Linked DNA regions of Homo sapiens: all the other regions are linked to region 3. Evidence: fine-mapped expression QTL. A gene starts in region 3. Each other region holds a variant in brackets. All regions are shown on one strand. Distances are between the middles of the regions.

What was found. PIP is the estimated chance that this variant, and not a neighbour inherited with it, causes the effect.
Region 1: its variant is fine-mapped to the expression of EMB in whole blood (INTERVAL, PIP above 0.99).
Region 2: its variant is fine-mapped to the expression of EMB in whole blood (TOPMed, PIP above 0.99).
Region 4: its variant is fine-mapped to the expression of EMB in whole blood (TOPMed, PIP above 0.99).

What each region holds. Positions count from the first base shown.
Region 1 is chr5:50,630,916-50,633,525 of GRCh38, forward strand. It overlaps the pseudogene LOC202319. Among named protein-coding and RNA genes, the nearest start is that of PARP8, 34 kb to the right of the region's middle. The variant T/C (reference allele first, on the strand shown) is at 1,083.
Region 2 is chr5:50,388,888-50,391,497 of GRCh38, forward strand. No RefSeq gene overlaps it. Among named protein-coding and RNA genes, the nearest start is that of EMB, 51 kb to the right of the region's middle. The variant A/G (reference allele first, on the strand shown) is at 1,354.
Region 3 is chr5:50,440,277-50,442,886 of GRCh38, forward strand. EMB (embigin) reads right to left here and starts at 1,012. Exons shown (of 9, transcript NM_198449.3): 1 at 764-1,012. The coding sequence starts at 875. RefSeq lists silencers at 556-745, 826-955.
Region 4 is chr5:50,480,620-50,483,229 of GRCh38, forward strand. No RefSeq gene overlaps it. Among named protein-coding and RNA genes, the nearest start is that of EMB, 41 kb to the left of the region's middle. The variant C/T (reference allele first, on the strand shown) is at 1,155.

The sequences.
Region 1 (2,610 bases), 190 kb after region 3:
GAGGGAAAAATTGAGCCTGATTTACAGAAGTCGCTGTACAACATCACAGCAACAGCCAAAAGTAGATTGCTTAGGCATTATAACCTACTTGAATGCAATTTTAAAAGAAATTCAGCCTATGTAATCAGTTGTCCACGATGTCTAGAAGGAGAGATATTACTGATTTATATGTGGCAGCTAAAAATTTGTCTAGGTAATTAGGGACTTGGGGCCAGGACTGGTGGCTCACACTTGTAATCCCAGAACTTTGGGAGGACAAGACAGGCGGATTGTCTGAGGTCAGGAGTTCGAAACCAGCCTGGCTAACATGGTGAAACTCCATCTTTACTAAAAATACAAAAATTAGCCAGGTGTGGTGGTGTGTGCCTGTAGTCCCAGCTACTCGAGAGGCTGAGGCGGGAGAATCTCTTGAATCCAGGAGGCAGAAGTTGCAGTGAGCCAAGATTGCACCACTGCACTCCAGCCTGGGCAACAAAGCGAAACTCCGTCTCAAAAAAAAAAAAAAAAAGATAATTAGGGACTTGGAAGGACAAAGATTGAAGGATTGGTGACAATGAGTTTTGGGGAAAAATACGTAGATGAACTACAGAAAATGAGCCAGAGTGTAAGAATATTTGTGCTTAATATGAATACTCACCAAACTATCATCAGGAAGGTTATCAAATAAATATGAAGGTATGAAACAACTTCTTTCACCAGGCACTACATTGCTTGCTCAGAAGGCTAATAAACAGCAACATTGGTGGTAGCAGTAGAGAATACATATAGGTTTAGCAACATGTTGGACTTTACCACTGTCCCTTACCAAAGCCTATTTAGCTGTCAAGACTATTAGGTGTCCAACACACAAGCAACAAGGACCAAGGCTAAGCACAAAATAACATATCCTGGGTGAAAAAAACAGTCACCTTTTGTCAGACTTGTTGATTTTACTGGAGCTCCTCTATGATAAAGGCAACAAGGAATGTTGTAAATGGAATCTAGCTTTATATCCTTGAATTACATTTGCTTGACCTGACATCATGTTTCTCTGATCACCACTCTCCGTGGGTACATTGAATGCTTTATACATACTGCCATAA[T/C]ATCCTGTTCTACATCCTTCTATTCAAAGAACTTGTTGTATAACAAATGAGTAGATATTCACTGCACTCACCTGGTCCACCATTTATCCTATCACTAACCAAAATTATTATTATTATAGAATGGCGAATATTTTATTAAAGACTCAATCACAGTGCCAGCTGGAGACAATGGCTTATAAGGTTGTACTCATGCCAGAGGATGTGGTGGTGTATCCTCTGAACTAGTAACTAAGTATAAGCTTGTCTGGTGTCTCCCATATAAAAAATACAACAATCTTTGATCTTTGTTATGAATGTTGAAGTGACTCCTTTTGTCATTACATCTAATGATCCACTCCAAATATTTGTCTCTTGTCTCTGAGATTCTAGGTTTTTGCAGAATTAGTACCCAAGGGGAGAGTCTCAACAGTATTTCATTTTACGATCCATCCTTTGTTAGAGGATGAAAGACTTCTAACTGGCCTTTTAGGTTGCCTGAGACCTTTAGACAAACAGTCAAAAATTTAAAATTTAAAATGTGGCACACTGTTGCATGGGGTAGTAAATCTTGACCTTAAAACTGGTATTTGTAAGAAAAACAGAAAGAATTCAGGGATCCCCTTTGATGGCTCTTAATTCTATACAGTCCTATAAATATTCATGAAGACTAGCCAGGCGTGGTGGTGCACACCTGTAATTCCAGCTACTCCAGAGGCTGAGGAAGAGAATGACTTGAACCTGGGAGGCGGAGGTTGCAGTGAGCTGAGATCATGCCACTTCACTCCAGCCTGGGTGACAGAGCAAGACTCTGTCTCAAAAAAAAAAAAAAAAAAAAGAAAAAATTAATGAAGACTAATTGCCAAAACTTGGAAGCAACCAAGATGTCCTTCAATAGGTGATTACATAAGCAAACTGTGGTATATTCATACAGTGGAATATTATTCAGTGCTAAAAGGAAAAAACTATCAAGCCACAAAAAGATACAGAAAAAACAAATATATTTTGCTAAGTGAAAGAAGCCAGTCTGAAAAGGGTACATACTGTGATTTCAACTATATGACATTCTGCAAAAGGCCAAACTATAAAGACAGTAAAAAGATCAGTGGTTATCTTTGCAGATGCCACCGTCGCTGGGAGCCCTGTACTATCAGCCATGGTCAAACCCATCGTGTTTTTTGACATCGCCGTCGACGCCAAGCCCTCGGGCCGCATCTCCATCAAACTGTTTGCAGACAAGATTCCAAAGACAGCAGAAAAGTTTCATGCTCTGAGCACTGGAGAGAAAGGATTTTGTTATAAGGGTTCCTGCTTTCACAGAATTATTCCAAGGTTTATGTGTCGGGGTGGTGACTTCACACACCATAATGGCACTGGTGGAGAAATTTCATGATGAGAACCTCATCCGAAAGCATACAGGTTCTGGCATCTTGTCCATGGCAAATGCTGGACCCAACACAAATGGTTCCCAGTTTTTCATCTGCACTGCCAAGACTGAGTGTTTGGATGGCAAGCATGTGGCCTTTGGCAAGGTGAAAGAACACATGAATAT
Region 2 (2,610 bases), 51 kb before region 3:
TAACCTAAGCTTCATAAGTGAAGGAGAAATAAAATCCTTTATAGACAAGCAAATGCAGAGACATTTTGTCACCACCAGGCCTGCCTTACATGAGCTCCTGAAGGAAGCACTAAACATGGAGAGGAACAACTGATCCAGCCACTGGAAAAACATACCGAATTGTAAAGACCACCGATGCTATGAAAAAACTGCATCAACTAACAGGCAAAATAACCAGCTAGCATCATAATGGCAGGATCAAATTCACACATAACAATACTAACAGTGTAAATGGGCTAAATGACCCAATTAAAAGACACAGACTGACAAACTGGATAGAGTCAAGACCCATTGGTGTGCTGTATCCAGGAGAGCCATCTCACATGCAGAGACACACATAGGCTCAAAATCAAGGGATGGAGGAATATTTACCAAGCAAATGGAAAGCAGAGGTTGCAATCCTAGTCTCAATAAAACAGACTTTAAACCAATCAACAAAGATCAAAAGAGACAAAGAAGGGCATTACATAATGGTAAAGGGATCAATGCAACAAGAAAAGCTAACTATCCTAAATACATATGCACCCAATACAGGGGTACTCAGATTCATAAAGCAAGTTCTCAGAGACCTACAAAGAGACTTAGACTCCCACACATTAATAGTGGGAGACTTTAACACCCCACTGTCAATATTAGACAGATCAATGAGACAGAAAATTAACAAGGATATCCAGGACTTCAACCAAGCTCTGGACCAAGCTGACCTAATAGATATCTACAGAACTCTCCACCCAAATCAACAGAATATACATTCTTCTCAACACTACATCGCAATTATTCTAAAATTGACCACAAAATTGGAAGTCAAACACTCCTCAGCAAATGCAAAATAACAGAAATCATAACAAACAGTCTCTCAGACCACAGTGCAATCAAACTAGAACTCAGGATTAAGAAACTCACTAAAAACCCCACAATTACATGGAAACTGTACAACCTACTCCTGAATGACTACTGGATAAATAACAAAATGAAGGCAGAAATAAGTATGTTCTTTGAAACCAATGACAACAAAGACACAACGTACCAGAATCTCTGGGACACATTTAAAGCGGTGTGGAGAGGGAAATTTATAGCACTAAATGCCCATGACAGAAAGCAGGAAAGATCTAAAATTGACACCCTGACATCACAATCAAAAGAACTAGAGAACCAAGAGCAAACAAATTCAAAAGCTAGCAGAAGACGAGAAATAACTAAGATCAGAGCAGAACTGAAGGAGAGACAAGAAAAACCCTTCAAAAAAAAAGCAATGAATCCAGGAGCTGGTTTTTTGAAAAGATCAACAAAATTGATAGACTGCTAGCAAGACCA[A/G]TAAAGAAGAAAAGAGAGAAGAATCAAATAGATGCAATAGAAAATGATAAAGGGGATACCACCACCAATCCCAAAGAAATACAAGCTACCATCAGAGAATACTATACACACCTCTATGCAAATAAACTAGAAAATCTAGAAGAAATTGATAAATTCCTCGACACATACACCCTCCCAAGACTAAACCAGGAAGAAGTTGAATCTCTGAATAGACCAATAACAGGTTCTGAAATTGACACAATAATTAATAGCTTACCAACCAAAAAAAGCCCAGGACCAGACAGATTCACAGCCAAATTCTACCAGAGGTACAAAGAGGAACTGGTAGCATTCCTTCTGAAACTATTCCAAACAATAGAAAAAGAAAGAATCCTCCCTAACTCATTTTATGAGGCCAGCATCATCCTGATACCAAAACCTGGCAGAGACACAACAAAAAAGAAAATTTCAGGCCAATATCCCCGATGAACATCTATGCGAAAATCCTCAATAAAATACTGACAAACCGAATCCAGCAGCACATCAAAAAGCACCACGATCAAGTCGGCTTCATCCCTGGGATGCAAGGCTGGTTCAACATATGCAAATTAATAAACACAATCCATCACATAAACAGAATCAATGATAAAAACCACATGATTATCTCAATAGATGCAGAAAAGGTCTTCAACAAAATTCAACACCCCTTCATGCTAAAAACTCTCAATAAACTAGGTACTGATGGAACATATCTACAAATAATAAGAGCTATTTATGCAAACCCACAGCCAAGATCATACTGAATGGGCAAAAACTGGAAGCATTCCCTTTGAAAACTGGCACAAGAAAAGAATGCCCTCTCTCACCACTCCTATTCAACATAGTATTGGAAGATCTGGCCACGGCAATCAGGCAAGAGAAAGAAAAAAGGGTATTCAATTAGGAAAAGAGGAAGTCAAATTGTCTCTGTTTGCAGATTACATGATTGTATATTTAGAAAGCCCTATTGTCTCAGCCCAAAATCTCCTTAAGCTGATAAGCAACTTCAGCAAAGGCTGAGGATACAAAATCAATGTGCAAAAATCACAAGCATTCCTATACACTAATTACAGACCAACAGAGAGCCAAATCATGAGTGAACTCCCATTCACAATTGCTACAAAGGGAATGAAATACCTAGGAATCCAACTTATAAGGGATGTGAAGGACCTCTTCAAGGAGAACTACAAACCACTGCTCAAGGAAATAAGAGTGGACACAAACAAATGGAAAAACATT
Region 3 (2,610 bases):
TAATCCCAGCACTTTGGGAGGCCGAAGCGGGCGGATCACCTCAGGTTGGGAGTTCGAGACCAGACTGACCAATGTGGAGAAGCCCAGTCTCTACTAAAAATATAAAATTAGCCCGGCGTGGTGGCGCATGCCTGTAATCCCAGCTACTCTGGAGGCTGACAGAGGAGAATCGCTTGAACCCGGGAGGAGGAGGTTGCGGTGAGCCGAGATCACGCCATTGCACTCCAGCCTGGGCAACAAGAGTAAAACTCCGTCTCAAAAAAAAAAAAAAAAAAAAAAAAAAAATCCTCAAAGCCAACCCACCTGCCAAGAGGAGGGAAGGAGGTGATACTCGAGCCTTACTCTCGAATCAAGAAAAGGGAGTAGGCCTTGGGGAAATGTGGCTTTCAAAATTCATGCCATATTTGCCCAAGCCAAGTCGCTAGCTGGTCCCTGCAACCACCCACACACCCCACTGCCTTCTTCCTAGGAAAAACCAGACTCTGCCCTGTTACCTACGCGCCCGACTCGCGGGGCGCTGTTCGTTCAAGACTCGCCCCAAAGAGCGCAGGAACGCGAGCCGCAGCAGTTTCAGGGTTCAGCTTAGGTGACACAAACGTAGCTAATGGGAGGCCGCCGCCGACTCTCCCACCCGCCCTTACCAGCATCCCCGCGCCTCTCCCCGCCACCCTTGCCCGGCGCGCCGGCGATGCCCTCTGCCCGCGGGGACCCGAGCCTCGCGCGCCCTCCGCCCTCCCTACCCTGGACCCTGTACCCATCACACCTGGGGCACTGCCGTCCGCCGAGCTTGGGCGCGCGGCAGCGAGAAGGCACTGGAGGAGGAGCAGCCGGGGCGTACGCGCCCTGGCCTCCAGCAGGCCGGGGAGGGCGCGCATGGCGCCAGAGGGTCCGCCTGGGTCCTCGTGGAGACTGCTCCCTCAGCTCGCCGCCGCGGGTGTCCAGAGTCCCTGCGCACACTCGCAGGTGGCCCGGCGCTCGCAGCCAGTGCCGCGGGTAGGACGCTGAAGAAAAGGCGGAATGGGAGGGGCCCGGCCGCCTTGCCCCACTCCCCCGAGACGCTCTTACCGCGCCCGGCCCTCCATCAGTTATGCAGCCCTCAGCCGGCTGCTGGCGTTCCCGGATGTGCGGTGGCGGTGCTACTTCCCGGCTGCAGCCTCTCCGGCCTCCGCCCTCTCGGCTCTAGCAGGTCGGGAGAGAGCTTGGGCAGGTGATGTCTAGCCAATCTCGTGGGGAGAGGTCGAAACTCTGCCTACAGACTGGCCTTTGCACTTCACCTGAGGCAGGTTTCACTAATTTGCTTTGATGGGACAGATGAGAAACACTTTTCTCCTCCCGGACCCCGGACATCTTTGGGCTTTCTTACGAGGGAGGCTTATTTTTGCGCAGGTGTAAGGTTTTATCCAGCTGCCAGACAACTTGTGTTAATCTTTCTTTGCTTTGCCTACCAATCACACACATTCTCTCTTCTAGTCTCTGAAGGCTTAACTGATTTTCTCCGGATGAAGGTTTTAGAGTCCCAAGGCCCCATACCGTGTCTGATTTTACTTTATTTTTGTTTGTTAAGCCTAACAGCTTCTGAGGAGCCACCTAGAGCTCAAGAAGCAAAAGCTACTGAGAGTAGATACTATGTAAACTGCACAAGACATTGACCTTTGTTAAATCCGAACACTCTTTAAGATAATGCTCTTACCCACAAGGCTGTAGCTTGGAATATTCAGTGCTCTGAACCAAATTAAATAAATTAGTGCTTTATCCGGGAGGGGAGGAGAAATCTATATTGTAACATTGAAACACATTGATTTGATTTCTCTCCAGGATGTTATAACGCATTAAAAGATATTTTTAAAATTTTTCACGAGCTTTGTTTCCTCTCCCTTTATTTTTTTGAAGTTCAGCTTTCACATTCGTAAATTCAAAATATATCGGCGTTAAAAAAAAAAGGATTGGAAATAACATGAGACAAATTTTGAAAATTGAGCTATTTAACAAAACCTGTGTTTATTCCAGGCAGGAATGGTTAATTTGTAATTGGTACGTATTACTAAAACACGTCTGTTTCTGGTTTAGTATTATATGCACAAAACTTTGGAAACAGAATGTAGATTCTTCAAATTGGCAGTGAGATAATATGAATAATACAATTCATTCAACAATATTATCTACCAGGTGCCAATCTACCATTGTGTTCAAAAGAGGCTAGATAGGCACACATGCACAAATGCACGCATGCACACATGTACACACACACACACACAAATTAGACAACTGTTTATCTGTGAATGACAAATCTCAGAAAAGCCTCTTCTCAGAAAATTATGGTCAAAATTATTAAAATCTTCTGAATGAAACTTTAAAAGATGCCTTCAAGGACTAAATCTTATACACTGTTGACCCTCTGAGGGCATTGACTGGGCTTGCTAAACCCAAATTGCCTAATCAATGGCTGCTACATCACACCTCTTTCTTTCAACCCTGCATCTGGTCTCAGGACTAACTGCACACATTTCCCTATAATTAGGTAGAGTGTCAACAGTAAGCACTTCTCACCTCAAACTAAACTCTGACTGACTTTTCCCAGTTAGTCTCATAAAATCCTTAGACACAAATTCA
Region 4 (2,610 bases), 40 kb after region 3:
AGATGCCAAATCTCCCCAAGTAAATCTTTAAATTTAATACAATTTCTATTTAAATTCCAAAAGAATTTTATTATAAAAATTGATCTTAAAATATCTGTAAAATGTAAATCAAGACAATAACCAGGGAATTTTTGAAGAATATTGAAGGAGAATTTGTCCTACTAGATATCATAATATACTACATAGTTGTAATAACTTCAACAGTGTGATATAAGTACAAGAAAAAGCAAATAGTCTAATGAAAGAATAGAGAGAAAAAGAAGGCATATATACACACAAGAATTTGGCATATAGCAAATATCATATTTCAAAACAGTTAAAAAGAGTTAGATTATCCAATAAGTAGCTGTTTGTTTAAGAATCTATCTAGTTTGATAAGTAAATTTAGATGTTTCTCTTATACATTTATCAGACAATAAATTCTAATTCATTAGAGTTCTAAGGATAAAACTATAACATTGTTCAAATGCTATAGAAGAATTTTAAAGTTATTTTTGGTATAGAAAAGCCTTCATAGGCATAAAATTTAAGAATACAGAGGCCTGGCACAGTGGCTCATGCCTGTAATCCCAGCACTTTGGGAGGCTGAGGCAGGCAGATCACTTGAGATCAGGAGTTCAAGAACAGTCTGGCCAACATGGTAAAACCCCATCTCTACTAAAAATACAAAAATATCTGGGCATGTTGGTGGGCACCTGTAATCCCAGCTGCTCAGGAGGCTGAGGCAGGAGAATTGTTTGAACCTAGGAGGCAGAGGCTGCAGCCAGTGGAAATCGCACCATTGCATTCTAGCCTGGGTGACAGAGTGAGACTCCATCTCTAATAAATAAATACAGAAAAAGACTAAACTTTTTCATTACACAAAATTTAAAAGAAAGTTTATACATGTTGAAAGATGCCACAAAGTAACAACAAAATGCAGATTAGGAGAAAATATGTGCAATGTATCACTTACAAGGGGTTAATCAGCACAAAATATAAAATACCCACTTGAAAAAAAAATGTGAGATGCGGTGCCGTTGAAACAATACATAAATGAATTAAGGTTAGTCTTAAAAATTTGGATAATTAAGTAGTCTATTGCAATTTCATGGATCTCTTTGCTAGGTTCCAAACACCACAAATCTAATTTTATAACTACCATAATGAGCTCC[C/T]GTGTGAACCAGAAATAAAAGGACAAATAGACCCATCAGCAAAATCACTGGCACAAATACACCCAAAAAGTGACCCGTAAGTTCATTTGGATGATCGGGTCCATAGAAGAGCCAGGTGCAGAGCAAATGCTGTGGCACTTAGTATCTTCCAGATCTTTGAGGGGATGAATTATATTTTCCATCTGTTTGTGGCTCGGCAGGACTCCATAGCCAAGAAAAAAGAGTTCTATTGTCCTGGTGATGCTTTGAAAAGCATTTTGGAAATGCTGAGGCCTTTCTTGGAGAAACAAGGCAACAGCATAAGTTTGGGATAGGCCAGGGAAATGGTAATGAGGGTGAATGAGTTGGCCTCAAAAGCCCTGAGAGAATCTGGAGAAGTTTGTCACAATGAGGGAGTCAAGAAACACAGTCAAACAAAAACGCCTGAAGCAACATCTAGAACATGTCACCAAGCTCTCTGCCATTGAGGGATCCTCTCCAGGACGTCAATCAACTGGGCTGAGACAGCTCCGTTATCTGCAGGACCCAGTTTAAAATGTAAACGTGGGGCCCCTTATTCAAAAAGCACAAAAAAAGTTCCACTAAACGTATTAAACTATCAAGCTGTTACCTTTCTCCCACAGTCTCCGCATTGTTTTGTCATGTCTCTTTTATTTGCTATTTAATGTCATTCTAAGTGAAGAAGAAAATTTTGATTACTTCAAAGAATTTTACCATTCATCTTTGTATTGTGTAATACCACATTTAGATGCTGATATAAGAGCATTTAATTTATATGTATAATTACTGAAATTATACAATTTATATTTCATAGTTCATACATGCATGTGTATTTTCCTCTTACCAAATAAGAAGAAATTTTGCACCAAAGCAGTGCAACAGTTTTTATTTTACTTCTCGATACATGCACATTCTACCAACACTCTCTACCTTTTGCTACAGGCAAGTAAGGAAAGACTGAAAGGAAAAGGAACTATGGGCTGTCCTATTTTTCCCTTTCCTTCTGTGTCATCATTTTTTATGTAAGTGCTTGGCCAATATAAGAACACAACTTAATTAAGAAAGGGTGTGATAGGCTTCTTTGGTTATTCAGATATCATGAAAGGCCACTGCTTTCTTTCTGCATTTGAAGCAAGGTTGTGTTCAAAGGAATACACTGGCTCTAAAAGCTGTCAGTGTCCTGTTCCATCGCCCTCCTCTTACTCAGTCCCATATATAAAATGCTTACCTTTTATTTACTTTAAGTCTCACTGAATTCCCAAGCCTAGTGGTCCACTGAAATTCTGTGCATATGGCGCATTGCAAAGGCAATCTGCAAGTGGAGTGTCAATGAAGCACAGTGTACATGTGCCCTGAATGTATCTCCTCTGCTCATGTGCATGTTCCATTATCCCATTAAACTCCGCTTAGAAAGCACAAGTCAAAGAAAAAGTTGTTAAGAATGTTCAGATAATAA